7 separate regions of the Homo sapiens genome follow, and all the other regions are reported to be linked to region 4. Evidence: microRNA targets listed by miRTarBase, many of them from high-throughput screens and not tested one by one. Region 4 holds a microRNA gene; each other region holds the end of a gene's coding sequence. Distances are between the middles of the regions.
What was found. The annotated mature microRNA hsa-miR-3941 reads UUACACACAACUGAGGAUCAUA and lies in region 4 at 1,287-1,308, shown strand. An mRNA with a match to its seed (bases 2 to 7 or 8) in the 3' UTR can be bound and repressed. Matches are read on the target gene's strand: a 7mer-m8 pairs with bases 2 to 8, a 7mer-A1 pairs with bases 2 to 7 and ends in A, and an 8mer does both.

Region 1: the mRNA of KIF13A is a reported target of hsa-miR-3941. The part of its 3' UTR that is shown has no 7-base or 8-base seed match.
Region 2: miRTarBase lists ATG10 as a target of hsa-miR-3941. Seed matches in the 3' UTR shown: 7mer-m8 at 2,221-2,227.
Region 3: miRTarBase lists KLHL42 as a target of hsa-miR-3941. Seed matches in the 3' UTR shown: 7mer-m8 at 1,439-1,445.
Region 5: miRTarBase lists DCP2 as a target of hsa-miR-3941. Seed matches in the 3' UTR shown: 7mer-A1 at 2,671-2,677, 8mer at 2,226-2,233 and 7mer-m8 at 1,940-1,946.
Region 6: the mRNA of TUBD1 is a reported target of hsa-miR-3941. The part of its 3' UTR that is shown has no 7-base or 8-base seed match.
Region 7: miRTarBase lists FGFBP3 as a target of hsa-miR-3941. Seed matches in the 3' UTR shown: 7mer-m8 at 2,132-2,138 and 7mer-m8 at 1,777-1,783.

The regions. Positions count from the first base shown.
Region 1 is chr6:17,760,788-17,764,855 of GRCh38, reverse strand. KIF13A (kinesin family member 13A) reads left to right here. Exons shown (of 39, transcript NM_022113.6): 39 at 1-1,163. The coding sequence ends at 746. Among named protein-coding and RNA genes, the nearest start is that of NUP153-AS1, 56 kb to the right of the region's middle.
Region 2 is chr5:82,253,075-82,257,142 of GRCh38, reverse strand. It overlaps ATG10 (autophagy related 10), which reads right to left. Exons shown (of 8, transcript NM_031482.5): 7 at 3,714-3,829; 8 at 1,010-3,075. The coding sequence ends at 3,718. Among named protein-coding and RNA genes, the nearest start is that of RPS23, 23 kb to the left of the region's middle.
Region 3 is chr12:27,797,745-27,801,812 of GRCh38, reverse strand. It overlaps KLHL42 (kelch like family member 42), which reads right to left. Exons shown (of 3, transcript NM_020782.2): 3 at 1-4,068. The coding sequence ends at 3,647. Among named protein-coding and RNA genes, the nearest start is that of MANSC4, 20 kb to the right of the region's middle.
Region 4 is chr10:122,415,738-122,419,805 of GRCh38, forward strand. MIR3941 (microRNA 3941) reads left to right here and starts at 1,228; the gene lies at 1,228-1,330. It overlaps PLEKHA1 (pleckstrin homology domain containing A1), which reads left to right. Exons shown (of 12, transcript NM_001001974.4): 7 at 122-265; 8 at 2,163-2,231.
Region 5 is chr5:113,012,934-113,016,998 of GRCh38, reverse strand. DCP2 (decapping mRNA 2) reads right to left here. Exons shown (of 11, transcript NM_152624.6): 11 at 1-3,678. The coding sequence ends at 3,515. Among named protein-coding and RNA genes, the nearest start is that of DCP2, 38 kb to the right of the region's middle.
Region 6 is chr17:59,857,047-59,861,114 of GRCh38, forward strand. TUBD1 (tubulin delta 1) reads right to left here. Exons shown (of 9, transcript NM_016261.4): 9 at 2,433-3,378. The coding sequence ends at 3,276. Among named protein-coding and RNA genes, the nearest start is that of MIR21, 18 kb to the left of the region's middle.
Region 7 is chr10:91,904,812-91,908,879 of GRCh38, forward strand. It overlaps FGFBP3 (fibroblast growth factor binding protein 3), which reads right to left. Exons shown (of 2, transcript NM_152429.5): 2 at 1,773-4,068. The coding sequence ends at 3,382. It overlaps FGFBP3-AS1 (FGFBP3 antisense RNA 1), which reads left to right and starts at 3,318. Exons shown (of 2, transcript NR_199602.1): 1 at 3,318-3,438. RefSeq lists a silencer at 3,548-4,068 and an enhancer at 4,021-4,068.

The DNA.
Region 1 (4,068 bases), not on the chromosome of region 4:
GTGTTTACAATGCCAGCTTGGAGAACAGGGAATGGTTTTCCTCTAAAGTAGATCTGTCAAACTCACGGGTCTTGGAGAAAGAAGTGTCCCGTAGCCCTACCACCAGCAGTATTACCAGTGGCTACTTTTCCCACAGTGCCTCCAATGCCACCCTGTCTGACATGGTGGTCCCTTCTAGTGACAGCTCAGACCAGCTGGCCATTCAGACGAAGGATGCAGACTCCACCGAGCACTCCACACCATCGCTTGTGCATGATTTCAGGCCGTCCTCAAACAAAGAGTTGACAGAAGTCGAAAAAGGCTTGGTAAAGGACAAGATAATTGTGGTGCCACTCAAGGAAAACAGTGCCTTAGCCAAAGGGAGCCCATCATCCCAGAGCATCCCTGAGAAAAACTCCAAATCACTGTGCAGGACTGGCTCATGTTCAGAACTAGATGCCTGCCCCAGCAAAATTAGCCAGCCAGCCAGGGGATTCTGCCCCAGGGAGGTGACGGTAGAACACACCACCAACATCCTTGAAGACCATTCTTTCACAGAATTTATGGGAGTGTCAGAGGGAAAAGATTTTGATGGTTTGACAGATTCTTCTGCTGGAGAGCTTTCCAGTAGGAGGAGTCTACCAAATAAAACAGGCGGCAAGACTGTCTCCGATGGGCTCCACCACCCCAGCCAGCTGCATTCCAAGTTAGAGAATGACCAGGTAATAATTCCAGAGGCAGCCTTTTGGGTTCTGTGCTGTCAATGAGTATGTCTAACTGTATGTCAACCCCAGAGGCCCTTCACCGCAACAACTTGGTAGGAAAGATTCATCCAGTTGTTTGTGACAGCAAAGATGAGCCCACAGAGAAGCAGGCTCACTTCCTGCACAGCTGTCTCTGTCGGAGAGCAAGTCTGTTTTGGGAACTAGAACGCAATTGTGAAATTATAAGACCAGTGGATTTTTTTACCTGGCACATGGGTTGGTGTTGAATGAAGTGTTCAGATGGATAAGGATCAATCTCATATTCATTCCCTGGGATGTTTAGTTACCAGTTTTCCCAAAGTGTTCTGGTAGCATCTACCATATTTCATCAAATCTGTGATTCCTTTGATTATTATATGAACCATTATTTTATGTATCATTAAGAAAAAATACTGCCAATTAAACTCTGTCATATCAACAGTTGTAAGACACCCCAATTTCAGAGATGGTAAAGTGTGGAGAGAAAAACATATATATCATAGAATTGGAAATAGACAGTCGTTTGGTGCCCGTAGGTGAAAAAGTGCTTTGGGGCGGTATAGGCAAATTCCAGCAGCAGTTGAAGTTTGGACTTTGGAAGTAACTCAGTTTATAATACTGGTTAATTTTCTTTTTTCTTTTTTTTTTTTTTTTTTTTGAGATGGAGTGTGGCTCTCACTCTGTCACCCAGGCTGCAGTGCAGTGACACGATCTTGGCTCATTGCAGCCTCCACCTCCCTGGCTCACGTGATCCTCCTGCCTCAGCCTCCCGTGTAGCTGGGACTACAGGCACGTGCCAGCACATCTGGCTAATTTTTTTATATTTTCACCATGTTGGCCAGGCTGGTCTCAAACTTCTGACCTCAGGTGATCCATCCCCCTTGGCCTCCCAAAGTGTTGGGATTATAGGCATGAGCCACTGTGCCTGACTAATATTGGTTAATTTTCATACGGGAACAAAATGAGTTTTTGCCACTATTACTAAGGAAAATCACAAATTACATAAATAAGAGATGTTCTGCTTCTGAGCATTCTGCTCTGAAGTACCACCATTTATTCCCATTCACATTCATTTGTTTGGTCCCCCAACTTGCTGTAAAAGGCATGGGAGAGTCATGGCTTAGCAAAATAAAGAACTGACAGAGCTAGAAAGAGGCTTGGTAAAAGTAAAATAATCATGCTGCTACTCTATCCCTTTGTTTTGCGAGCAAGTTACTCCATTGATGTGGCTTTTGCCCCTGCTTTTCATAACAGCCCTTAAAATTTCAATGTATGGTCATTTATACAGCATACTCATTACTGAACTGCCAAAACCTAAACAGTCATCTCTGACAAGAAAAAGACTTCCTTCCCCGACATAAGAATAATGATAGAGTCACTCACCACCATTCTTGCAAGCAATACATGCATTTGTTTAGGTCTTCAACTTTCTTTACCTGGATTAAAGCAGAAGCTACACAGCTGGTATACATCAGCTTTTCAACCCTTGTTCGTCAAGAAGGCCAGTGTCAAAGACTCTTTAATTCTTTACTGTAAGATTAGGTTTGCTTCTCAAACCTAAAGGTGCTACAAACTCTAGGGGCAAGGAGGGTGTGGCAGGCCTCTTAAAAATTCATATTCATGGCCGAGTATGGTGGCTCATGCCTGTAATCCCAGCATTTTGGAAGGCCGAGGCAGGTGGATTGCCAGATGTCAGGAGTTCGAGACCAGCCTGGCTAAATGGTGAAACCCCATCTCTACTAAAAATACAAAAATTAGCCGGATATGGTGGCACATGCTTGTAGTCCCAGCTACTCGGGAGGCTGAGGCAGGAGAATCACCTGAACCCAGGAGGCGGAGGTTGCAGTGAGCCAAGATCGCACCACTGCACTCCAGCCTGGGCAACAGAGCAAGACTCCGTCTCAAAAAAAAAAAAAAAAATTCAAATTCACCTGGGCTTAGTGGCTTGCACCTGTAGTTCCAGCTATTCTGGAGGCTGAGGCGGGAAGATCACTTGAGCCCAAGAGCTCAAGACCAGTCTGGACAACAGAGCAAGATCCTATCTCTGTTTAAATAATTTTAAAAATTAAAATTTTTAAAAAATTCAAATTCCCAGGAGTCACTGCCATCCAGCCCTAAGATTTTGCTTTATACAGTGTGCAGCAGGGGAAATAAGGTATTCACAAACCCTTCCTTCCTCCCCATCCCCTCGCATCCCCATAGAGTAATAGGAGACAGGTTATCTGAGGGCCATACTGTGGGAAGCACTGCCCATAGAAGAGGGAAGAGGAGCAACAACCCCCTTCTTTTTTCATTGCCTAGATTATTTAGAACCCAACAGGAAAAGGTAAGGATTGGAAAGTTTCCAGAATAGTACGTTCCTCCCAAAGATCATGGTTTAAAGTGAAATTTACAAACATGTTATATCAAGATGATGGGATTATGGAGATTTTTCTCCTTTAAAGAGTTTTTAGCGGAGCGCAGTGGCTCACACCTGTAATCCCAACACTTTGGGAGGCTGAGGCGGGCGGATCACCTGAGGTCACAAGTTTGAGACCAGCCTGACCAACATGGAGAAACCCTGTCTCTACTGAAAACACAAAATTAGCCGGCAGTGGTGGCACATGACTATAATCCCAGCTACTCGGGAGGCTGAGGCAGGAGAATCGCTGGAACCCGGGAGGTGAAAGTTGCAGTGAGCTGAGATTGTGCCATTGCATTCCAGCCTGGGCAACAGGAGCTAAACTCTTGTCTCAAAAAAAAAAAATTTTGGCGGCCAGGCATAGTGGCTCACGCCCGTAGTCCTAGCACTTTGGGGAGACCAGAGCAGGAAGATCGCATGAACCCAGGAGTTTGACACCATCGTGGGCAACATAACGAGACTCTGTCTCTACAAAAATTTAAATGTTTTTTTATTTAATGTATCTGCTACATTGGTTTTAATAAGTTGTTTTGACAGTTTAAAATTTTTTCTGAGAACCATAAGTTTGACTTTGTTCAAACCCCTGAAATGACTTAGACTGCACATCCAGAAGTCACTTTTTTTCCTTAATTTTTACTTTGGTTGTTGCTGTCATTACTTTTCCTTGAAACATCACCTCAGGGCTTTTACAATGTGGATTCCAGCACTGGATTCCATAATAAAACCAATCCTGTGGGTCCCTTCAGGAAGAGCCCCTTTCTTGTGATGGGTGTGGACTGGGCTGAGAGTAGGTGCTGTGGGTGGGGTGGGGAGGTGGGGATGAGAAGCATGAACTCACCAGCCTCTGCATTCCAGGGAGGCACAACCTCACGGTGAGAGCAGCAAGCACCCCTCCTCAGGCCACAGCTTGGCGTCTTTGTTCGCCTGGTCACCTTGGGCAAGCAC
Region 2 (4,068 bases), not on the chromosome of region 4:
GGTAGACCTGTGGGGAAGGAAGCACTTCCAGGTGGGCACCAGCATAAGCAACAGTCAGCTAAGGGTGTGAAGGAAAAGACTCCCCAGATCAGAGAGCGCTTGGCACTGGGGAGGGCTCAGACATACAATGAGGTGGAGAGGAGTAGGGATGCTAGTGTCGCTGAAGGAGCAGGTCATTATCCACTGTCACCCCTCACTCCATGTCTCACTGCCTTGGTTAAAGCACATTCAGTTTTATGTATCATTTTGATCTTCTCTATGCCCTTGTCAGGTAAGCAGCATAGATACTGTGGGCTTTATTTTTCAGAAATAGTTTAAGAAGGAAATAAGAAAATTGGCCCAAGTCACACAGCTAGCAGTTAACCAGCCTCACAGTTTAGATCTCTGGACTTCTATTTCACAGACCTAAAAATTCACGGTTGTCGCAAAAGACACATAGCTGAATTTCCCTATTTTACAAATAAAGAAACTGAGGACCACAGAGGTGAAGAAATTTTTCCAAGGTCACACAGAAGCAGAATTTAGGAGGTGAGCTGGAAGCGACTTTACCCAGCCTTATTTCTGATAGATGTTGTACATTATTTGAGGAAGCAGGGAGAAAAAATCCTCATATTGCCGAGAAAGAACAGTTACTTCAACAAAACCAAATATCTTCTAATGTTTAATAACTGTCAGGATAACATTCTGTTAGCATAACTGCATTTATAAAAATGGAAATTGTTATCAACCAAAAATTAGAAGTTTTTTAAGTGAAAAAAATTCTAGAAAGAAATCAAGCTGCTTGAGGAGATGGATCTATCTGGGAAGAAAGGCCTCCCCAGTCTACAGGAGCTCCTTGGAACTTTTTTCTGCCACTGATGAATTTTTAGGTCTTTGTTGATCAGAGAAAAAGTTGTATTTTTAACTTTTTTTAAAAAAAACTAAACATTGGCTCCAAACTGATAGACTCTCATCTCAGAATCTGTTAGCAAAGGATAACTAATGTTTGCAGACAAGAACACCATTCAGATGACACATTATTATAATTTATTTTACACTAGAAATGACATGGCTTGAGAAATGACTTGCTGAGAAATCTGTGTTTACATTAGGGAGATTGGGGGGAAAATCCCTCACAGAAGTTGAAAACATGCTAAGTGGTAAATACCAAAATGCCCAGCAAGCATTTAAGCCGGCTCTCATCCTAGCATGAATATGGGCAGCTCAGCATTTTAAAATTTACTTTTAGCTTTTCTAGCAGTTTGAATTAACCCTTTCTCTACTTCCACTTTCTCTGTGAGAGTTCAGCTCTTAATCTGCAGACGTGGACTGAGGGTGCTGTCACGGTGCTCGGTGATCCACTGGTGAATGATGTCCTCACCTGAAGCAGTTTCCTACAAGTGGGCTGCCTTGTGTACATGTCTCCTAAGCTTCCTTACTATCCATGTAAGGCCTAGACAAACATTAGGAAGCAAGTTCAGCTTGTATGGATTGGAAAAGGCCTGTCAGTAGAGCAAAACAATACAAATCAATGTCACAATAAAGGTATATCCAGACCAGAGGTTCTCCAGAGCAGAATCACCCCCAGAGAGACTGTGTCAGGTGGCCCCAGCATCTGTAGCTGTAAACGATCCTCAGGTGATTTTAAGTATATCCCTCATTCAAAGACACACTAATCTAGACTCTCTAAAAAGCCAATGACATTTTAATCTTCGTTTCAGCTCCTAGCAAATGAAAGCAAAAAACAAAACAAGCAACCAAAAAAAAAATTGTTCCAGGTTAGGTTTATCTTAATACTTAACTGGCTATGAAACTTATTTACAGCCTTAGTGAATACCAATTATATACAAGAAAGGTGAGCATTTAATGAATATTCGTATAATACTTTACAATATCTTATCATGCATTAATGATCTCATGTGGTTCTCACAGCAACCCTATGAGGTAGCTTGTTAGTTTCAAATTAAAGATGAGGAAAATAAGTCTCAGGGACATGAAGACTCGCTCAAGAGCCCTCAAAGAGTACAGCAGAGCAGCTGTGGGGTTGAGAAGCAGAGGGGTAAAATGACCATTGTTTTATTACTATAGGTCAAAAAGAAATTTTAATGTTTAAATATCTCCTATAGCTTTTTAGAAAACTTCTAATTACTATGCCACACTTTGCTGGTAAAACATATTATCTCACAGTAAAATATTGTGTTTTTTCTTTGTTTTACAACTATCTACACAAACACCCACACATACACACACACACACACACACACTCACACTCACTCTCTCTCTCTCTTTTGGAGTAAAACAGAAATAATCTATTGTTCCTGAGTTTGATTGTGGGAAAATCACTTAAGATAGGTCATGTTTATAACACCAGTTTCAGGGACAGGTAAATCCAGTAATTTAATTTTTATATATCTTACATTAAAATGAACACACAAATACATTTCTCCCTCAATCTCCATGTCAGACAAATGGAAGTGAAGTACTTGGCCTAGAAAAGAATAACCTGCAAGTGCCCTAATAATGTTGGTATTCCTAGTATTAATAAGTTAGATTTGTTTTTTTGCTATTTATAGTGATGTGTCTTTTTTTTTTTTTTTTTTTCCCCGAGACAGTGTCTGGCTCTGTCACCCAGGCTGGACTGCAGTGGCACAGTCTCAGCTCACTGCAACCTCTGCCTCCTGGGTTAAAGCCAACCTCCCACCTCAGCCTCCTGGGGAGCTGGGACTACAGGAACACACCACCATAAACAGGCAAATTTTTGTATTTTTTTGTACCGACAGGGTTTCACCATGTTGCCCAGGCTGGTCTCGAACTCCCAGGATCAAGTGATGCTCCCACCTTGGCCTCCCAAAGTGCTTGGATTACAGGTGTGAGCCACCATGCCTGGCCATGATGTATCCCTTTGAAGTGTTTCTTCTAAACATTCAGCCTATCAAACACCAGTTGCTGTAGACATTTGTGTCCAAGGGAAAAATAATCCATGTCACATCTTGGTGAGATGAAATATTCCATGGTATCAGTCCTATTAAAGCCAGGGCTGGCCAGGTAAACTCTTGGCATTCTTCGTGCCGCAATTCCTAAACTCAATAGAAGAATCTGAAGAACATAAAACAAAAGCCAAGAGAATAAAAGAAAAATAACTGAGCAGTAAAGACTTATTTAAGAATATCAGTACTAAAATAAAACTATCCATTCCTGTCACTGAGTGCATGCTACTTACAGCAAAGTAAAATATTTCCTGAATTGGTGGCCCCCAACCTTTTTGGCACCAGGCACCAGTTTCAGGGAAAACCATTTTCACAGACCGAATGGGAGATGGTTTCAGGATGAAACTGTTCCACCTCAGATCATCAGGCATTGGTTAGAATCTCATAAGGAGCGCGCAACCTAGGTCCCTCAGATGCGCAGTTCACAATAGGGTTCACATTCCTATGCAGATCCAATGCTGCAGCTGATCTGATAGGAGGAAGAGCTCAGGTGGTAATGCTCGCTTGCTTGCCCACCCAGCTGCCGCTCACCTCCTGCTGTGAGGCCTGGTTCCGGTCCATGGCCTGGGATTTGGGGATCCCTGTCCTAAATAACTTGGTAGGGGACTGATTGGAAAACTAAAAATTAAGTCAGGGTTTGCCCACTAAAGATGAAAGCAAATTTTGCATTTGGTGGGATGAGTCTAAATGCAATGGAGACATTGATCTTTGTAACGGCAAAACATTAAATCCAGGCTTTTCTTTTACCTTGTTAAGGGACATTTCGTTCATCCTGAGACGTTGCTTTGGCATAACTCAGAGGTAGATTCAGCCCAACAACTGGCCCTACAATGCTCAGCCATGATGTGATATAGTTGACATTCCTAGGAAACAAGTGAAATACAGGCCATGCTAACGTTTCCATTGTAGTTTTTGGATGAATGGTAGAACATCAGTTGGTCACCAACAATAACAAAAGTGAGGCTTTCTTCAAAGATTTGTACCTACCACCTGGAATCTCAGCATTTCTGAATGCCAGCCCCATTGCTTGACAAGAATTTAAGGTCCAGAGAGCCTGTAAGGATCCCTCATTAGGGTAGTTGAAGAATGAGGTAAGGTACTG
Region 3 (4,068 bases), not on the chromosome of region 4:
GCTCAATCAGCTCACTGCTTTCAAAGTCATTTTGGTTGGTGTCTACCCACTTAATTCTTTCACTCCTCTGTCTAAGGCAGGGATGGCAAATAGCCTTCATTTCACTCTGATGGACTGGGAATAGATGTCTGGAAGCACCAATCTGACATGGATTCTAAGACCAAATCCTGGCACAGAGGACAGGAATGCTGCACTCATTCATAATGCCTCCTTAAAAGAGCGGTGGCACAGGTGTTATATATTCCCCATTCCTGGTCTAGGAAAAAGGCATCCAACACCTACTTATATTCCTTTTACATTGCTATGCTGCCTCTTGAGTGATCTGCATTAAGCCACTGTTCGTTAAATGCTGGTTGATCAGGAAGACCAAGGCCTTTCCTCTCAATTTACGTCTTTGGCCAAACAGGTAGGGTCAGAACTTCACCTGGAAATCTGAAAACACATCATCCACAATGCTCAATAGGCAACAGTCCATTGAAAGAGAACAGGTATTTACTTGATTACTCCCTTTGTAGAGAAAGAATTTTGCCCATCTCAATGGTGTGTAGCTTTCATTGATATCTAAGGCATTTGGAATTACTTAGGATCTTGGTGTTAAAAAAAAAAAAATGGCAGGGTTAAATTCTCTTTGGTTCTCATTCTAATCTTAAGACTTCTGTTTGTTTCTTCCTGGTACCCATAACCTTCTCAGCACTTCGTCGTTGTGACTTAACCAATACTGTTGAAATAATCAACTCTTTCACACATTCATCAGAAAACCTTTTAAAGGATGCTAAGGGGAGAGGCCTCTGAAAATAAGTGGGTTGAAAGGAAAGCCAGAGAGAATAACAGGAAGAACCAACCTTCTAACAACCCACACACAGGACTCTCTACCATTCAGACTGCTATCTATAAAATAGGGTGCTTCTGGTCGGGGGGCTGCCACCCCAGGTCCTCCAAGCAACCCTTTTCCCCATAGTGGGAGGTCAGCATCCCTCAGAAGCATCTCAGGAAAAAATGATAAAGCATTTAGAGAATTGGGAAGAAAATAGAGGGATACTATCAAAGAGTAAAGGACAGTCCTGGGGGATGAAGGGGGATTTTCTTTTTTCTTTTTTTTTTTTTGGAGACAGAGTCTTGCACTGTCGCCCAGGCTGGAGTGCAATGGCACAATCTCGGCTCACTGCAACCTCCGCCTGAAGGGAGATTTTCAAAGCAACATTGCCTCTATCATAGGTAGTCTTCAATGTAATACTGGCACCAACAAGAGAACCGAGCTAAATTAAAACTACCCTCAAAATGTCATCACAGCTGATGTGCACAGCAGGAAGGACGATGTCACAAAATGCACAGATCTGTTCCTATTGCACATTCCACCTTTCCCACGTACTGCTGGCAGCCCAGAATAACCAAAATCTTTTTAGATGTCTGTCTTAAAGAGAGCTATAATATGCAAACATACACACACACACACACACACACCCCCACACACACACACAACCTCAAACCTGGTTTATAAAAGAGCTTTGTGGATCAGAGTACACCCTCACTTGGTCCAAGAATCTAATTGTCAACATTAGGCAAATAGACCCAATGAATGTAACCAGGAAGAGAATTAACTGGTTGGCTGGAATATTGTATTTGATATGATATGCTTATTTGCAAACTAATCTCCAACTGTTTGTCCAGTACTAATTCAACTGACTCATCTTCTAAATGTATAGGACAAAGCCTTTAAAAAGTTAAGCTCTTCAGCAACGAAAAGTTAACACCATCTAAAATAAATAGATTTTAAAATATATGTAATGAAATTACAGGTCACTGGAAATTCAATTCTACAATGAATATAAATTAACATTAAAATCTATTAAGTACTATTCCTGGGAAGATTTTGGTTCAGAGGTTTTATTTTTTTAAGGGCTTAATATTTGGGAATAAATGGGCATAGCTTAGAAACCCTTACAAAGTTGTAAGTAGACTAGAGGTAAGATTATTTGGTGACAAGATACAAAGATCTGTTTCTATGTCCAAAATAATGGCTTACCTCATTTTAGTTAATAGAAGTATTCCCAAAAAGTTGTGCAAATAGGCTTTTTATAACTGGACGCTTATTTTAAGTATACTAGAGGCCATGGTTGTAAAGAAAACCTGTAGTCACTCCTCTAATAAACTGAAGAACTCTAAGTGATTAGCCCCTGTCCTACATCTGCACAGTGGACGGCATACTCCAGGCACTCATAAGTGTTTGTTGAATGCATGAATTCGCTCTGACAGTTTTTTTTTTCCCCTACAGGACTTTCTTAAAGTGAGGCACATGCTAACTGAAATGGTTCTGCCCGCTGTTACTGCAGAAAGATGGAATCCAGCTCACAGTTTAACTGATGCCATTACAAAATATCAGATAATTTCAGAGTGTTTTCAATCAAAATAAAATTTCCATAAGTATGAGTGTATGTATTTTTGAGGAATGTTGATCTATGATTGGCAGAAGCTTTTATTGTTAACTCACTCACTGAAAACAACTGCTTGAGCTGAATTCTATTTCAATTAACAACCAAGGCAAGTAAAGCACTTTACCTAACTTCAGAAATACCACCAGAAACCATTCCACTTCTGTAACAGCTTCTTCCCCTCACTCCAGCACAAATATTTAAATGCTGTCCTTACCTTAGTCCACAAAAGCAAAACATGAATTACAAAGCTAAGATTAAATTAGAAAGCTGCCGACTTAAATATGACAAAGTTTTTTTAGCCTTAAAATAAGAACTAAGTCAAATACATTCAACAAAAGTAACTCTTAAAGGCAAATTTTTTTCTTATTTGGTGTTTTCTTCCCTTCCCATTTAAATTTAAGACTCAATTTTTAATAATATTCATATGTCCATTTTTCTAAATAATATATCCTCTTTAAAACAATACAGAATGCCTAGCAGTGCAACCTATGTGTCCACATAAATATGCAACCTGCCACATAAATAAAATAAGAGGTTTTATCAGTCTATTTATCCAGCATTTGTAACTGCAAAAAAGGCTGGAAAAATAGCTAAGAATATTTTTATGCAAGTTTTGGGGAGGACTGAACACTGGTAAGGATTCACTGTAGGGCTCCATCATTATAAGTTTCCTAAAAAGTAGTGTGCAAACAAAATATCTGAACACAGAACCCTAAACATACTAGATGTATGTGTGGGTATGGGTGATGGAGAAGAGAGAATGAATATGTTAATATGAATGCTTGTCAAGGACACTGATAAGAAAAAGAAAACCTCTCACTTAAGGTGCTAATGATATGTCAAGGGACCTAAATACAACAGATTTTAAAATCATCTTTACCATTTGTCCCAATTATTGACTTTGGCCCTTTACCACACAGACACAATGAATCTACATTTTGATGATCCGTCATTGGCCCAAGAGTATCATGTTTGGAGATGGATTTGCTCCCATAATTTAAAAATCAATAATTTAAAAAATAACAAAGTTGGTCTCTTTTTTCCACCAGTTTTCAAGTAATTAGTTCAAGTAAGCTTATTTACAGCTGCTACTGTATATATGTGACCTACTTTAACCCTTCTTTACCCTTTAGGAATTGGTCTCCCTTGGAATGGGACACCACATTTTAAAAAAAACTTGAACCAGGTTTTTTTCATCTACCAATTCAATTCAGTCATGTTTCTGCTTTATTGGGCAGATAAAGAGAAGAAACCAGCAAGTTATGTCCAAAAGCTGGAAAACGCCGAAATGCTTCCCAACTATCTGAAAAGATGTTGTACTTGAGGAACACTCGGTGTTCCAAGCTGGTCGACAGGGTGACGTCTCTGCTCATGATGTAGATGCCGTCGTTATGGAGCGCACAAGTCAAGTTAAGACCCGATTTGGACGTGTTCTCCTTGAGGTAGAGCCACTGGCGGGTGACGGTGTTGTAGGACTGCACGGTGAGCATGTCCTCGCTCTGGCTGCTCCTGCGGTTGGGCCCCAGCTCGTGGAGACACCCCCCCACGATGTAGATGGTCTCTTCCACAGACACCATCTGCTGCTTGCGAATGTGGACGTCACATGTTTCAAAGAGCGTCCACATGTCGGAAGAGG
Region 4 (4,068 bases):
TCTTCAAAAATCTGTTTCTGACTAATCTAAGGTGGATTTTAAGATTTTCTACTGGGATAATATGAAATAAAAGTATGCTAAACAAGCAAGAAAATAATTTATTTATTTTGCTTCATTTTAGAAAGAAGAAGTAAATGAATGTGGTGAAAGTATTGACAGAAATAATCTGAAACGGTCACAAAGCCATCTTCCTTACTTTACTCCTAAACCACCTCAAGATAGTGCGGTTATCAAAGCTGGATATTGTGTAAAACAAGGAGCAGTGGTGAGTAGCTTAACAAAATACATGAAATAATGAAAAAGGATTACGTTCTAGCAAACTCAAATTAACATGGAAATTGTTTGCTTTATTTTATGAAAGACCCAAAGTGAGAGACCGGCATGCTGAGGAGAGTCAGGAGATAAAATAGGGGATATTCTCTGTTTATAATTCAATGCTGTTATTTGCTTGGTTTGCAGGGGGCCAGGAAAGTTAATGCCCATTACCACTGACTTTCAGTTTAAATGAGCTTTCCTAACAGTTTAATGTTTTAGAAAGTGTTTCTATTCATCTTTACTCATACTCAGGAGTGGGTCAGGGAAAGAGAGCTGTTGTGGGGAGATGGCAGGCCAGCGGCAGGAGAAGGAGTGGTGCCTAGGAGGTCTCTTCCTTGTTTAGGCATTGGCCTGACCTCCGTGGTAAGCTCTCTGACCTTGGGCTACTTACTTAACCTCTCAGGCCCTCAGTTTCTGTCTTAAGGAATATCATATAAAACCTACCATCTAGGGTTTTGTTTTGTTTTGTTTTTGTTTTTTAAGAGATGTAAATAAGAAAGGTGTGTTTCCCTTTGCACAGCACCTGGTACTTAGTAAAAGCTGTTATGGGTTAGCCCAGGTATTCCCATATAATCAGTTCCATGATGAATTTTTTGCAAGAGCAAGTAAATTTACCAATATTTCTAAGGTTGCAACATACCTTAGTATCTAAGCCATTCTTTCTATGTGAACTAAATCTTTAGAATTTCATGAGAAAATTAACTTTAAAGTTTGAAAATGTTTTTTAAGTCTGTGAGTAAAGAAATACTTAAAATTATTTTGGTGGTTCTGTTTGACTTCTCATCACTTTTTGGCAACTCTTAATTTTTTTAGGGCAGCCAGGGGAATGTCCTTTCACCTGTTTGACCTGCTTTAGGCTGAGGAAAATGATGGTGAGGGCAGGGGTTTCTTACTGTACAATGTCTGCAGGTAGAGTCAGAATTCTCATCAGGCTGTGATGCTCAGTTGTGTGTAGATTGAAAGCCCTAATTTTACACACAACTGAGGATCATAGCCTGATGGTTCCTTTTTGTTTTACTCTTAAGTCCAAAATACCAGTCAGAGATATTTAAGTGCTTCTGCAAAAACTGTTATTTTATTGACAAAAAATATTTGTACAAAATAGGTTTACTTTATTAAATATTTAGTGCTTTACTACTATGTATAAAGTACTTGTGGAAGAATTCATATGTTTTTACAGATGGAGAAACTTGATGTGGTTTAATAACATTTCCTGTGTTTGCTCTTTACATGGGGTTGGCGGGGGCGAGGAGTAGGAGGAAGGGGAAGTGCTTTTAAAAAAAAAAAAAGTTTCAACATTAAAAATATGAAATAGGCCAGGCATGGTGGCTCACGCCTGTAATCCCAGCATTTTGGGAGGCCAAGGTGGGCGGATCACCTGAGGTCAGGAGTTTGAGACCAGCCTGACTAACATGGTGAAACCCTGTCTCTACTAAAAATACAAAAATTAGCTGGGCATAGTGATGGGAGCCTGTAATCCCAGCTACTCGAGAGGCTGATGCAGGAGAATTGCTTGAACCCAGAAGGCAGAGGCAGTGAGCCGAGATCGCGCCATTGCACTCCAGCCTGGGTGACAGAGCAAGACTCTGTCTCAAAAAAAAAAAAAAAAAACACATAAAATCATACAATAAAAGATGAAAGCCAGGCACCAGAAATTGAATTAGGAATTCAAAGCCTGGGTAGCTAGAGAGGGATGAGGTTTAATTTATCGCATCTCTAAGGGAAGTAATGAGATTTTTCACTGCTTGGCATGTCTGATTGTGGGTTCATATCAGGGTAATTAAGTGGTGACTAACATTTGACATTCTTAGAAACACAAGTCTTATGTCTGTGTTCATCTCTGGTAGATGAAAAACTGGAAGAGAAGATATTTTCAATTGGATGAAAACACAATAGGCTACTTCAAATCTGAACTGGTATGTTGTTACGTCATAAATGTTGCTATAAGAATGTTTGAAAAGTGTTGCAATGTAGTGATTATATATAATTTCTTGTACTGTTCTGTAGTTTCAGAATAAGTCTAGTTTTTAGAGGTAAATATAGTTTATTTGGTTGTGATGCTTTTGGTTAATGATATTTTTCTTAAATACATTTTTAAGTAAAAAGATCCTATCTTCAAAGCAGCATTCCACCTTGAAAGATCTGAAGATCTCAGAATCCTCTAGTCTATAAATTTCCTCTAAAGGGGCTGTCCTCTTGGGGGGTTAGCCCCACGTGGAGTAGGGAGAGAAGGGCATCCACATGGGGAAGGGGTGGTGGCAGAGATGGGAGAATGGTCACATACACAGTGATTTATAAAATCAGGAACTATATTAAGTATAATAGAAGCCAAGTCTTTTCAGAGAAACAATACTTTTTGGTGAATGAATGTATATCTGTATATATGATGAGGAATGAGATATTTACATAGTTTCAAAGTACCTATCTACTAAAATAGGTATTAAGTATTGTACAAGGGGAAAAAGAGTAACATTACAGTGAGGAAAGTGGTGTAAAGAATTCTGTCTGTAAAAGTCAATATTTAACCCTCTGTATTTCTTTCTCTTGAGATTTTCTTTACCTATTTCACATTGACTCATAAATCACTTCACATAAGATGTTTTTATCTTCCCTGAAGGTAGAATCAGAAATTGAAATTCCCTCTTCGCCTTGTTTGAGTTGCATCCTTATTTAAAATATTGTAGGGTGATCTGAGTCCTGAAATAGCTTATTGGAGACATTGAATGCAATTCTGTAGTATAAATGTCTATCCTACGTCTTCTTTTTGTATGGGATCTTTGAGAAGGGAACTTATACTTTGTTTGAATGAAGTCACCAGAACAGCATTGTCCATTAGAACTTTCTGCACAAATGGAAATGTGCCGTATCTGTATTGTCCAAGGGCACTAGCTACATGTAGCTGTTGAGTGCTGGAAATGTGGCTAGTGTGACTGAGGAACTGACTTAATTTCATTTTAATTAATTTATATTTACATCATTACACACAATGGCCACTGTATTGGCCAGCAGAGCACTAGTGTATAGGAAGGGGATATTTTAAGATTCACCTCAGGAGTCAGCTCTTCTGGGAAGCTTTTAGACTCTGGGTTAAGTGTCTTCTCTTTATATGCCCTGTGGTACCCTATGCATACTTGTATCATAATGCTCTTCCCAGAGTTTTGCAATCACGTGCATTCTTGTCTTTGCAACTAAATTAAATGAGCTTCTTAAGGGTAAAGACTCTTGTAGTCTTTTATGATCACAGGGCCTGGCACTTGATAGACAATAAGTGTCTTTGAATGAATGAAAAATGGCATAGCATAGCAAGAAATGCCATTTTAGTATGGGGCTTTCTCAAAGCTTAAGAGCCTCAACTGGAAGTAGTAGTTACTTGGTTCAGAAAGTACCTGCCTTGTTGTCTCAGGAGGCTATCCTTGTGCTTGGTTAGCAGGTTGTCTCATAGATTTTATTTAAAGCCAATACTCCCGGGAAGAGTCATTCATGCAGCAGACATTCATTGAGCTCTCCATGAACCTGGTGCACTGTTCTGGGAACTGAAAATAAAAGAGAATAATTAGCAAAGTTCTCTGGCCTTCAGGAGTTCAGTTTTGGTGGGGAAATTGACGTGTGCCCCCATCATCAACAGTAGTTTTAATAATTAGGAATATTTTTAGTATTTAGAAATTGCAGATAAAGCTGAAAACCTTTAAAGGTCAGTAATTATAACTATACTTAAGTTTTCCTAATTTTACGGAGTATAGTTTATCTCCTATG
Region 5 (4,065 bases), not on the chromosome of region 4:
GTGGTGGCGCATGCCTGTAATCCCAGCTACTTGGGAGGCTGAGGCAGGAGAATCACTTGAACCCGGGAGGCGTAGGTTGCGGTGAGCCGAAATTGCACCATTGCACTCCAGCCTGGGCAACAGGAGTGAAACTCCATCTCAAAAAAAAAAAAAAAAAAGCCAAGAGGGTATTGTGGTAAGAAAACTAACTTGGCAAAATGTCTAATTTTTATAATTAACTTTGCTCTCCTTACCATTTAACTGTTGGAGATGAAAAAAGAAAGGATGAGAAGTCCATGAGAGAATAGGTAGTGAAATGTTTTTAATGCACACATGCACTCAGACCTTAACTTTTCTATAGGATACAATATGGTGACTTTTATAGAAGAATCTAATTCCTATAGTAGGAGGCTGTTATTTACTCAGATTTGAATTCCTTTTATTTGACATTACATACAAATTACTAAAGCCTTAATAAGGAAAAGTACCAATTCAATCTTACAGCATAAAATTACTTTCATTATATGTCTTCATTAGCTATACTTACTAATTGATATTTAATAGAAAAATAACGATATTCAAAGCTCAGAACAGCAAGTAGTAACCACAATTCCTTTGACAGCACTGGGAGACTTTCCTTTATACATGAATACAAAAATCCAACTTCATTTTCCAACATCTTTAATCAAATTTCACTCACACTATATGAGTTCTATTAGGTTCTCAGGCCTCTCCAAATGCTCATGTCTCAGGAGGGTATCACTATTTGAAATCCTAAACCATTCATTTGCTACTTCTTAACAAAAATTTTTGAAAAGCATGTAAACCACACCCTTATCTTTTGGATTACAATGGTTAGGTACAAAAACAATTCATTTAGCATCTTATAAATCATTAAAGTTATACATAAAAGCACCTACAAATTTTTTTAAAAATAAAAGATTCACAGTGCACTGCACCTTGGAACATATAAGGTTGGAACGTAACATTTAAAAAGTGAATTCCAAGACCTGTATCTCTCTCAAAGACATAAAACATAATGAAGCAAAACCAACTACTCTTCTCATCTAGCATCTTAAAATGCAGCACTCAGTAGAAGTAAATGATTGCATATTCAGCATACTCCTTTATCACTTGATTTCCTCAAACCATACTAAAATTTCTCAAAGGAGAAATCCAGTTCGCTAAGCATGGCCTTTCTCAAGGTAACCTGAACACTGAGAAACTATTACCCAGGTTTGAGAGAATAAGTATAGTAGATGTACCTAAAACAAGTACATCCAACTTAAATATTTTCTGCATAGTTAAGTCACATCACACACATAAACTTTAACTCACATCTTTTAACATTTTTTTAACCTCAAACTTTGAGGAGAGCTAAAAGCCTGAAGTTATCATAATCACACCCCAACAGTACCCTTATATTTTGTTCCACAGTGCATTAAATAAAGCAGCGCAACAGCAGTAACATTTAACCATAGTTAAACTACTGTAATCACAAAGATAATTTGTTGGTTCTTGAAAAGGCTCAACACCATTAGAGGCCATACTTCTGGTAACTATAATCTCTTTTGCTTCAGTATTGAGAGCTGAAAAATCCAACTCTACAGGCACCAGGAAGACTGGCCAAAGTATGCACTTAAAAAGAAAAAAAAAAACACATACCAAAAAAATAAAAAACAGTAAAAGTTAAATGGTTTCCAGAAGACAATAAATGAGTGAAAATTATTCATCTGCCAGGCAAACTACATTTTCACTCCTTTAACAATTTACCAGAAGTCTGGAATGCTGGGACCAACTATAAATATGGCTCGAAGAGACCCAAGCAAAGCAGCCGTATTTCTGAAAAGAACAGTAAAAGCTTCCAAACACAATCATATAATGCATTAAAAAGCAAAAGTCACAGGATTCAAAAATTTGTCACATTAAAAGATGCAGGATTCTGAATATCATAATTCTATACACACTGCTTTAATTGTGAATTCTCCTGCTTAGCACCAAAAGGGTGACACTTTCATTAATAAATAGAATTTCTCCTTTAAAATCAAGCCATTTAAAAGCTAAAGCAAAGTACTACCAAGTGAATTCCTTAAATAGCCCTTCTTTTAAAAGTCCCATGAGGTTCAGTGGAACCCAATTAAATAGGCTACCTACACAGAATAAAGATTTCTACAATAACATTTATAAGCAGAGAAGTATTTTGTGGATACCACTGTAAAAAAGGATTTTTAAAACCCACATGATAGTTACACACACACACATATACTCAAACACCCCCGACTCCCAAGAAATTCCTTCAATGAGGTCAGATGCAGCCAAAACACTAAAGCCCCCTTAACGCCCTGGTGATTGTCCTCAGTTATAGCTGAAATCCTCCTTAAAATGGGCACTGCCATCCTTATTTGAATTTAAAAATCCTGAAGCAAAATACATTCCTAGGAGTGAGTTATGTATGTTACTGTTATGTAACACATATACATAACGTGTAACCTAGTGAAATGCTTTATTTGGACTTGGGTAAACTGCATACCCCTTCCCTTCTCGCTCCATCATCCAGGGGCTTAGCAGGTCAATAAAAGCATGTCAGTCTCTGCTACTATTGCGAATTGGAACCTAATGTAACATCAGTTTCCAAAGATCAATACTGGAGATGCAACGTAAAACCTAGTAATATCAGTTTTCCATACATATTTACACAACTGGAATACAGAAGAAATTTCCACAAGAACAAAAGTCTACGAGACTAAAGGGTTGGAGGCAGGACAGTAAAGACATGACCCAAAGTAGCTGCTGGGTCCCAGCCTCCATGCTGTCTGCTACATTTCCTCCAGCAGTCTCACAGGTTTACTGACTGCATGTAACCACAGCTCAAAATCACAGCATCAGCTCCCATCCACTCAAGCCCCTCCAGGCTACAGACTTTGTCCTTTTGAAGCGCTGAGTTCATTTTGGACATGCACATTATATTCCAGAAGCTGCTCAATAAATCCTTTCACTAAAACTCCAGAGGAAGATTAGAGAGCCTCAGTGGTTAGAAGCAGAGAGAAGTACAAAATGCCACCAAAATAGATCACCTGTAATGCTGACGAATGTGACATCTCAGCTCTTGTGTTCATTTAATAATTGGGCATTACTTTAAGTTTCTTTGAAAAACTCCAATATACTATTATTGCAATCACTGTAACAGGTAGATGGAGCATTCCCATTAACTTGGCTACTTGACAGTAACTCAATACATTATTTTCTTAACCAGAATACAAAATAAAACCCACAGTCACACAGAATAAATGCCCTCAAAGAAAGCAACTTAAACTTGTACTGAACACTGAAAAGGTAAATCTGTATAAAAGGTTATAACTGCATTTACAGTGCAAACTCGTGTTTCTTTCTACTCTCTTATAAACAGAAAATGTCTTCAGAAACATTGCCTCCCTGCATTTCTTTAAAACACCTGAGAAAGGTAAGGCTTGAGGAGACACCCACTCAAATTCAACAGGTCTCTGATCCTGGGACATTTACAATACATGTGCTGCTATCAAAGGTCCAAGATTTTCATTATAGCATTATGGTCAAACTTGAAACTCAAAAAGGCTCTGGATGAAAAGGGGAACTTGCAATGTCCATTACATGCCACGGGCTGTCCCTCAGCATGTTCTAGCAACTGGTCTTCACTGGAGCTAGGCAAGTCATATACAGCATCTGTTTAAAGAAAAAACAAAATAAATAAGCTCAGTAACCTTAGTAAGAAATCAAATACTGCCCTTTGCCTTTTGTTACAAAACAATTAGTTTTGAGTATATATTTATCTTCCCAGACTCTAACCCTAAACAGAACCACCAAAATATGTATTTTCCTTTCCATAAACTGGTGGTCAACTGCATTTTCAATCTATTATTATTTCCACATATTCAAAATCTTAATCTCAGCCATTAAGACCCTTGACATTCCTTTGCTTTCAAAATGAGCGTAACTTTACCTCCTGTATGTGCTTTACCTATTTTATGTGCATTCTGTTACAGAAAAATAAAGCTGGGGTTTACCAAGATTTCCAGGAATTTATCACCATAAAGAAAAATCTGGCCAGGC
Region 6 (4,068 bases), not on the chromosome of region 4:
AGCAATAATTAGGAAGCTAGAATTGTAGCACTAAACATCCCAAAAAGCTTCTTCAGACAAGGTAGCATTGATCCCTGTATCCTTAACATCTTCCTCAGTGCCTGGCACTGAATAGATGATACTGGTTGAATGGATGAATTGGCTGATAATAGTGAATTGTTGGCATACTTAGTGAGTTCTAAGTGATGGGTAAAATATAGGAGAAAGATGTTGAAAGATGTTGTAGATTGAATAGTAAGGGTGGATAGGGGAGGGGAGTTTTCGGGGAGATCCCAGGGCTGGAAGTGGCGAATGCATGGGAAAAAACAGGTTCTACAGCTTAAGCTCTTGAGGAAAGATTGGGGAGGTAAGAGAGAAAGAGCTTGACAATAAGAAACAGTATGCATTCACACTGTGCTCATTGTCCACAGGGGTGCATTCTGGCTCTGCAGGATAATGTTTGACAACGTAATGTGCCAGTTATCCCATAATCTAAGAAATTACACTTTCAAAGTTTTCTGGATCTGTATGCCCAGGAGCTAAGGGAGCCAATGTTGTCCTCCTGGCTGACTGGCCATTATCTCCACACAAATCAAAGCACATTTCCAATGCCACTCCATCTGAAGTTTTGACATCAGCATCTTGGTGTTAATTTTTAACTTAAAATCACAACTTTAAGAGCAAAAATTTTGTTATTCCAAGTAGACAAGAAAAAATTATTTTCCATGTGAATGTTTTAACCCAAGCTTTAAAATATTTAGGCATTGGCCAGGTATGGTGGCTCACGCCTGTAATCTCAGCACTTTGGGAGGCCGAGGCAGGTAGATAGCCTGAGCCCAGGAGTTTGAAACCAGCCCAGGCAACATGAGGAAACTTCGTCTCTACCAAAAATACAAAAATTAGCTGGGCATGGTGGTGCACACCTATAGTCCCAGTTATTAGTGAGTCTAAGGTGGGAGGATTGCTTGAGCCTGGGAGGTTGAGGCTGCAGTGAGCTGAGATCATGCTACTGCACTCTAGCCTGGGTGACAGAGCGAGACGCTGTCTCAAAAAAAAAAAAAATACATACACACACACACACACACATATATATGTAATAGGTAACCATACATATCAAATAATGCAGTTGTGGATCATAAAAAAGGGTCAAATAGCATAAGTAAATGGACCCAGAGCTCTGTCTAGTTGGGATTTGCTTCTAATGTTCACCTGCTAATGATTCCACGAGTTGCCAAATTAGAAATATACTTGCCCCTATTGGTACCTCATGAATTTTCTCAAATATCAAATGATTTCAACTTACGACTTTCTTTCAAGTTAACTTCTAGTAAGGTTCCTCAGAATCAGATTAACCCCTGGTGAGATACTCAGTTACAGATCTTCATGAATGCTGGTTTAGTCTGGGAAATTGTTTCAGTCTGTGGATCTCTTCAATGCTTAAACAATTACTTTAACTTGTTTGGTAAAAATTATGATCTAATTATTTTTCAAGTGTACTTGGCTTAACGAAATGCAGCAGCGGGGTGTGCCTTTTAGCAGCAGAACCGACCACTTTTTACATTCCTTACAAATAAGATATGGTTCAGTATTTTAAATCATAGCAACAGTTGATAAGAAAAACAGCAAAAAGGTAATCATTTCCATATGGAAAGAAAAAGAAGAACCAGTGAAGCTGTGAACTGTCATTTTTCCATATAAAAGTCACTATTGGTAGATTTGGCAGAAAGGGCAAATGTTCCTATTTGTTAATCATTTTACATTTGTTAATATATTGCATGTGATGTGTTTTATGGAAATACAACATTCCCTTCAAACTCAGTTGTCAATTTCCAAGCACGTTTTGTCTTGGGTGAAACCCGTATCTTGTGCGTCAATTTCATCAAGTAACTATATTTCCTTGGTGATAATTTTCTCAACTTAGTGAAAAATTTAGGTGAAAATTCTTACCCCTTTTACTGAAAAGCATATAACCATCATCTGTACCAGCTGAATACCTATAAGTAATTTCATTCTTTTTTTTTTTTTTTGGAGACAGTCTTACTCTGTCACCCGGGCTGGAATGCAGAGGCACGATACCAGTTCACTGCAGCCTCGACCTCCCAGGCTCAAGTGATCCTCCCACCCAAACCTCCAAAGTAGCTCAGACCACAAGTGTATGCCACCACACCCAGCTAATTAAAATTTTTTTTTTTTTTTGGAGAGATGGGGGTCTTACTGTATTTCTCAGGCTGGTCTCAAACTCCTGGCCTCAAGTGATCCTCCCACTTTGCCCTCCCAAAGTGTTGGGATTACAGGTGTGAGCCACCATGCCCAGCCCATTATAAGTAATTTTAAAGCAATAATTGAATAAAATCAATATCTGCTCTGGCATTCCAAGATCCAAAACAAAATTTGAGCCAATTTTCTCATGCCCAAAAAGTTTAAGAAAAGCACACTAAGTACACATTTACCTATTTACTTTTGTACTTAAGCATAAGCATTTATTACCAAAATCCTCATATTTATTTTTAAATAGCTGCTTAGAGTGGAAACTTGCCCTGTTACAGAATATTCAAAATACATGTTCACACTGTAGCATTTGACAACATCTCCCTCCTGTGGTTCAAAGCATTCATTTCAAACATGAATATATTAAGTACAGAATTACAATTCCTTAGCTTGAAATTATGCTGTGAAAGTTTGGTTCATGCTTTGTGAGTTGTTTTTGGAGTTGTTTTGGAGTAAAGATTTAGGAACATGTAGACAAAGAGAATATTCTCTTTTCTTGGCTAGTTCCAGAGTCCCAACATTTCAGCAAAGTGTTTCCCCAAAGTTCTTTATAAAAGCACCATTTTTTTTTCTTACAAATGAAATACCAAGTGAATGTTTTCATTGAAAACATGCGATTCTCCATTTTAAAAAGTTTTCTTCCTTTTCTGTGGGCATAGTATGCAGAATAGACTCAGCATTCTACGTGGTTACTTTAACAGAATGGAACTTTGAAAACATTTTTTTTTTTTTTTTTTTTTGAGACGGAGTCTCGCTCTGTCGCCCAGGCTGGAGTGCAGTGGCGCGATCTCGGCTCACTGCAAGCTCCGCCTCCTGGGTTCACGTCATTCTCCTGCCTCAGCCTCCCGAGTAGCTGGGACTACAGGCACCCGCCACCGCGCCTGGCTAATTTTTTGTATTTTCTGGTAGAGACGGTGTTTCACCGTGTTAGCCAGGATGGAGAACTTTGAAAACTTTACAGAGAAAATAGTATTGAAAATATTTTAGTCCAGAAATGCCTTAAGGTATACTTTTCCCATTGTTCAAGATCAGAGATTACAGTAACTGGCAACAACCTGCTCTAATGACGTGAAACTGTCTAAAAAGTCCTCTTCTTCGATTCCAAATTTTGTGTACTGATGAATGTAGGCTCTGGTAGAAAAAAAAAAAAAACAGAAATTACAAAATAAAAAATGTCTGGCAAATGAGTAACTCTTAAACAATAAACAGACCTTTTCTAGCTGATGAACATTTGAAGATCACACAATCGTTCAGAAGTCTTACATTTGCTTTGTTTACTCCAAAGATTAGTGAACTTTCTTTTTTTTTTTTGAGACAGAGTCTTGCTCTGTCACCTAGGCTGGAGTGCAGTGGCATGATCTCGGCTCACTGCAACCTCCACCTCCCAGGTTCAAGCGATTCGACTACCTCAGCCTCCCGAGTAGCTGGGATTACAGGAACGTGCCACCACACCCAGCTAATTTTTGTATTTTTAGTAGAGACGGGGTTTCACCATAATGGCCAGGCTGCTCTGGAACTCCCAACCTTAGGTGATCCACCCGCCTCGGCCTCCCAAAGTGCTGGGATTACAGGTGTGAGCCACCACGCCCAGCCTGAACTTTCAAAATTTATGTCAAGCTCCCTGTTTTTTCAGTGTCCAAAAAACTGGCAAAGGAGAGGCACCCGGGAAAGAGCAGCATGTTCAGATTTGGCTATCTACTCAGTATATATATATATACATATATAACACCCTATATTCAGTATAAACTCTGAAAAGTGCCTGAAAAGTTTCATATAAGCCTTGAAACTAGAAAACACATCAGTCCAGTTCTAGGAATGGAG
Region 7 (4,068 bases), 31 Mb from region 4:
GTCAGAGAACATACTTTGTATTATTTAAATTATTTTAAATATGTTGCAATTCATTTTATGGTCCAGAATATGGCCTATATTGGTGAATGTCCCGTGCATATTTGAAAATGTGTAGTCTGCTGTTCTGCTGTTATAGGATACAGTATTCCAGAAAGGTCAATTAGGTCAAGTTTGTTGATAGTATTGTTCAGGTCTTTTATATTCTTACCGATTTTCTATCTTCTTTTTCTATTTATTACTGAAAGAGAAACGTTGAAGTCTCCACATAAAATAGCGAATTTATCTATTCCTCCTTTCGATTCTATTGGTTTTTGCTTCATGTATTTTGTTGCACTGTTAGGTACACTCACATTTAGGATTGTTGTCTTTTTTGTGAGTTGATCCTTCTCTCGTTATATAATGTCCCTCTTTATCCTTTTCCTTTGTTTTGGAGTTTACGTTGTTGGATGTAGCCACTTGTGGTAAGCAGAATAATGCTCCCACTTCCCCCCCGCCGCCCCCACTTCTCCCACCCCTGCCCCGTGTTGACATCTTAATCCCCAGAACCTGTGAATATATTGGGATAAATTGCATTAGATTTCAATGGGAAATTAAGGTTACAGATAGAATTAAGTCGGCTAACCAACTGATCTTGAGATTGAAAAATTATCCTGGATTATTTGAATGGGCCCCGTGTATTTGTAAGCGTCTTTTTAAGTAAAAAAAAGAGCGAGGCAAGAAAGAGGGAGTCAGAGAAGGAGATGTGATGATAAAAGCAGAGGTTGGAGCCGGGCGCGGTGGCTGACGCCTGTAATCCCAGCACTTTGGGAGGCCAAGGCGGGCGGATCACGAGGTCAGGAGATCGAGACCATCCTGGCTAACATGGTGAAACCTTGTCTCTACTAAAAAAAAAAAAAATACAAAAAATTAGCCGGGCGTGGTGGCGGGTGCCTGTAGTCCCAGCTACTCGGGAGGCTGAAACAGGAGAATGGCATGAACCCGGGAGGTGGAGCTTGCAGTGAGCCGAGATCGCGCCACTGTACTCCAGCCTGGGCGACTGAGCAAAACTCCGTCTCAAAAAAAAAAAAAAAAAAACAGAGGTTGGAATGAGATGATAGTTGGCTTCGAAGATGGAAGAAAACCAAGGGCCAAGGAATGTGGACAGCTCTAGAAGCTGGAAAGGGCAAGGAAATTGATTCTTCCCTAGAGCCTCCATTGTTCATTTCTACTCAGGTTGGCCTGACTCCCTGCTGCTTCTAGCTTGACCTTTTCTGGGACTCTTGTTTTGGCCTTGAACCTTGTCCTGTTGAATAGCAAGATTGGAACTTACCCAGGGTTTTCTTTCAATCAGCAGAATGTGGAAAACTAAGATACATCTTTCAGATGATAGTGTACCCACCATGCTTACAAGCAATTCACAGGCCCTGCGCATAATCAAAGAAAGGGGAATACACAGAGGTGAGAATACCAGGAGGTAGGGATCATGTAAGTAACTATATTATATACTTATAGTCTGCCACCATATGTAACTTGTAGAGTTGAGAATAATAAAGTAATGATTTACTCTTATTTGAAGAATTAGAATTTAACTGATTATGAACAAATTTTGTGTTGAGATCATAGGTGTTTAGGGTGCAAGGACTATGAAGTTGTTGTTTTAATATAGTATGCAATGGTATGCTTCAAATGGAGGACCAAAATATTCAGAATAAAGCGATCTCACCTTGTTAAGGGAATGACCATGAGGATTTAACTTCAAGTTCCCAAATAAGTGGTTGCAACACACACACACATATATACACACACACACATTTATATATATAATGGAAAAACATATATATAGTTGCCCCTCCACATCCGTGGGCTCTGCATCCACAGATTCAACAATGGATGGGAGGAAGGTGGGGAGGAAGGGAAAAAGAAAGAGAACCAGGGTGCAAATCAAATAGAACAATGATAAGGCCAGGTGGCTGCCAGTTTGTGACTCTTGCTTTATGTCAACTTCTTAGTTTCTGTCTTTTCCCAGCAATTCAAGATGTGTTTAAGAACTTAATTCAAGGTGTACTTGGAAGTAGATCAAATGCAGGTAGAATTTCCATTGCCTTGCCACTTCTTTAAATCTAACCATACAGTTTTTATTGAGCACCTAACATACACACACAGTCTCTCATTACATCACACTAAAAATGAAATATATTAATAATTAGTTACATGAAACAGAGAGATACAACTTCCATAATGGTCAAAATGACTCTGAGATACATACTTACATTTTAGCTGTTTAAAAAAAAAAATCAGATATAAAGAGAATCACTGTTTACTGGAGCACTCAACATCTATAATTCCTTCTAAATGCAGAAGGTTAATGGGAAAGTTCCAGAACATTAGTCACCATTTCGTTAAAAAGTAGCACTTCTAGTGGCACACCCCTGTAGTCCTGGCTACTCCGGAGGCTGAGGCAGAGGATCACTTGAGACTGGAATGTCGAGGCCGCAGTGAGCCATAATTGCACCACTGCTCCAGTCTGGATGACACAAGACCCTGTCTCAAAAATAAAAATAAAGTAGCACTTCTAAGCCAAGTGCAGCTGTGCATGCTTGTAGTCCCAGCTACTCCTACTCCTAGCTATTCTGGAGGCTAAGATGTGAGGATCCCTTGAGGCCAGGAGTTGGAGACTGCAGTGCCTATTATTACACCTGTGACTAGCCACCGCACTCCAGCCTGGGCAAGCCAGACCCTGTCAGGGAAAAAAAAAAAAAAAGGTAGCTCTTCTAAAAGAATGGAAAGGAAATCATTCTGCAAAACTTTCCTTGGAGCCAGTTTTGACCTGTGAGGCTTCTGTCCCTATAGAGGTTATCTATGACACCCACCACGCCGCATCCAAGTTTATACCAATTCAGAAACGGAAAAAAAGTCTGCAGTCTTGTTAGCTGATTAAGTGAGAAGACATTGATTCAACCTGGCTCAGGTTGGCAATTGCTCATGGCTGCATTTAATAGAAATGTTAAACAATAAACATTGCATCCCCCTCCCCACATGGGACTCACATCACTTTAGTCACTCTATCTCCCCCTTATTCTCAGCCTCCCTCTGCATCGATTTCTCTCCCCAGTCTCCAGTTTTTGCACATTTAAAGTACGCCTATTTCTGTTTCCATTATTTTTCCTGCTCTTAATCAGGACTGAGACTTTTCAAAATTTTTAACTTCTCTGCTATCCCAGAGATTCTCCATACCCCTTACACTCTCATCCCAAGCATCTCACCCTTACCCTTGCCCCCACCCCCATTCGAGAACCTGGACTTCTCCCCAATCTCTATCACAGTACCCCCCGGTCTAAGACGCCCTTAGCTTTCCCTTCCCCACGCCTCCCCCATCAACCCTCCCTAAGCCGGCAGGCAGTCTCAGCCGTTCCAGAAATTGACAAAGAAGTTGCAGAGGGAGTGCCACTTCTCAGCGCAGTAGGTCTCCGTGAGCTCCGCGTTCCCGTCCAGCCCGTCGGGGTCGGGCCCGGTCCCCATGGGTCGCTCCTCGTTGGGGACCAAGGCCGCCTTCCTCTTGCCCTCGTTGGTCTTCCTCTCTGAGGGGTTTTCTTTGGGCGGTGCGCTTTGGGGAGGCGGGGTCCCAGCGGCTGGGCCGGACGCACGCTCCCGGGTCCGCCCCCGGTTCCGGGCCCGGGGCTTGGACTCCCCCGCGAATCCCGCGACGGTGGGGCGTGCGGGCGGGGACGCGCGGGGCACTAGCCGCAGCTCGGCGCCGTGGCCCTTCTTGCCCGCGCACAAGCGGGCCTGGAGCGGCGCGGGGTCGTGACAGGGCCTCCGCTTCTTGCGCAGCCCTCCCAGCACCTGCTTCCAGAAGTGCGCGCGGCGAGCGGCGTAGGCTGCGCAGCGCTCCGGATGCCCGCGGTAGGCGCACTGGTGGCGCGCCCCGTCCGGGCTCTGGCAGCGCAGCGCCAGCTCGCTGCCCGCTGCGGCCTCCGGGGCGGGCAGCAGGAGCTGCCAGCTGCACGCGTGCTGCTCGGGGCTGAGGAAGCGACCCGAGGAGCCGCCAGTGGGCCCGGGGACCGGCTCCGCCACGTTGCTAGCCGCCCC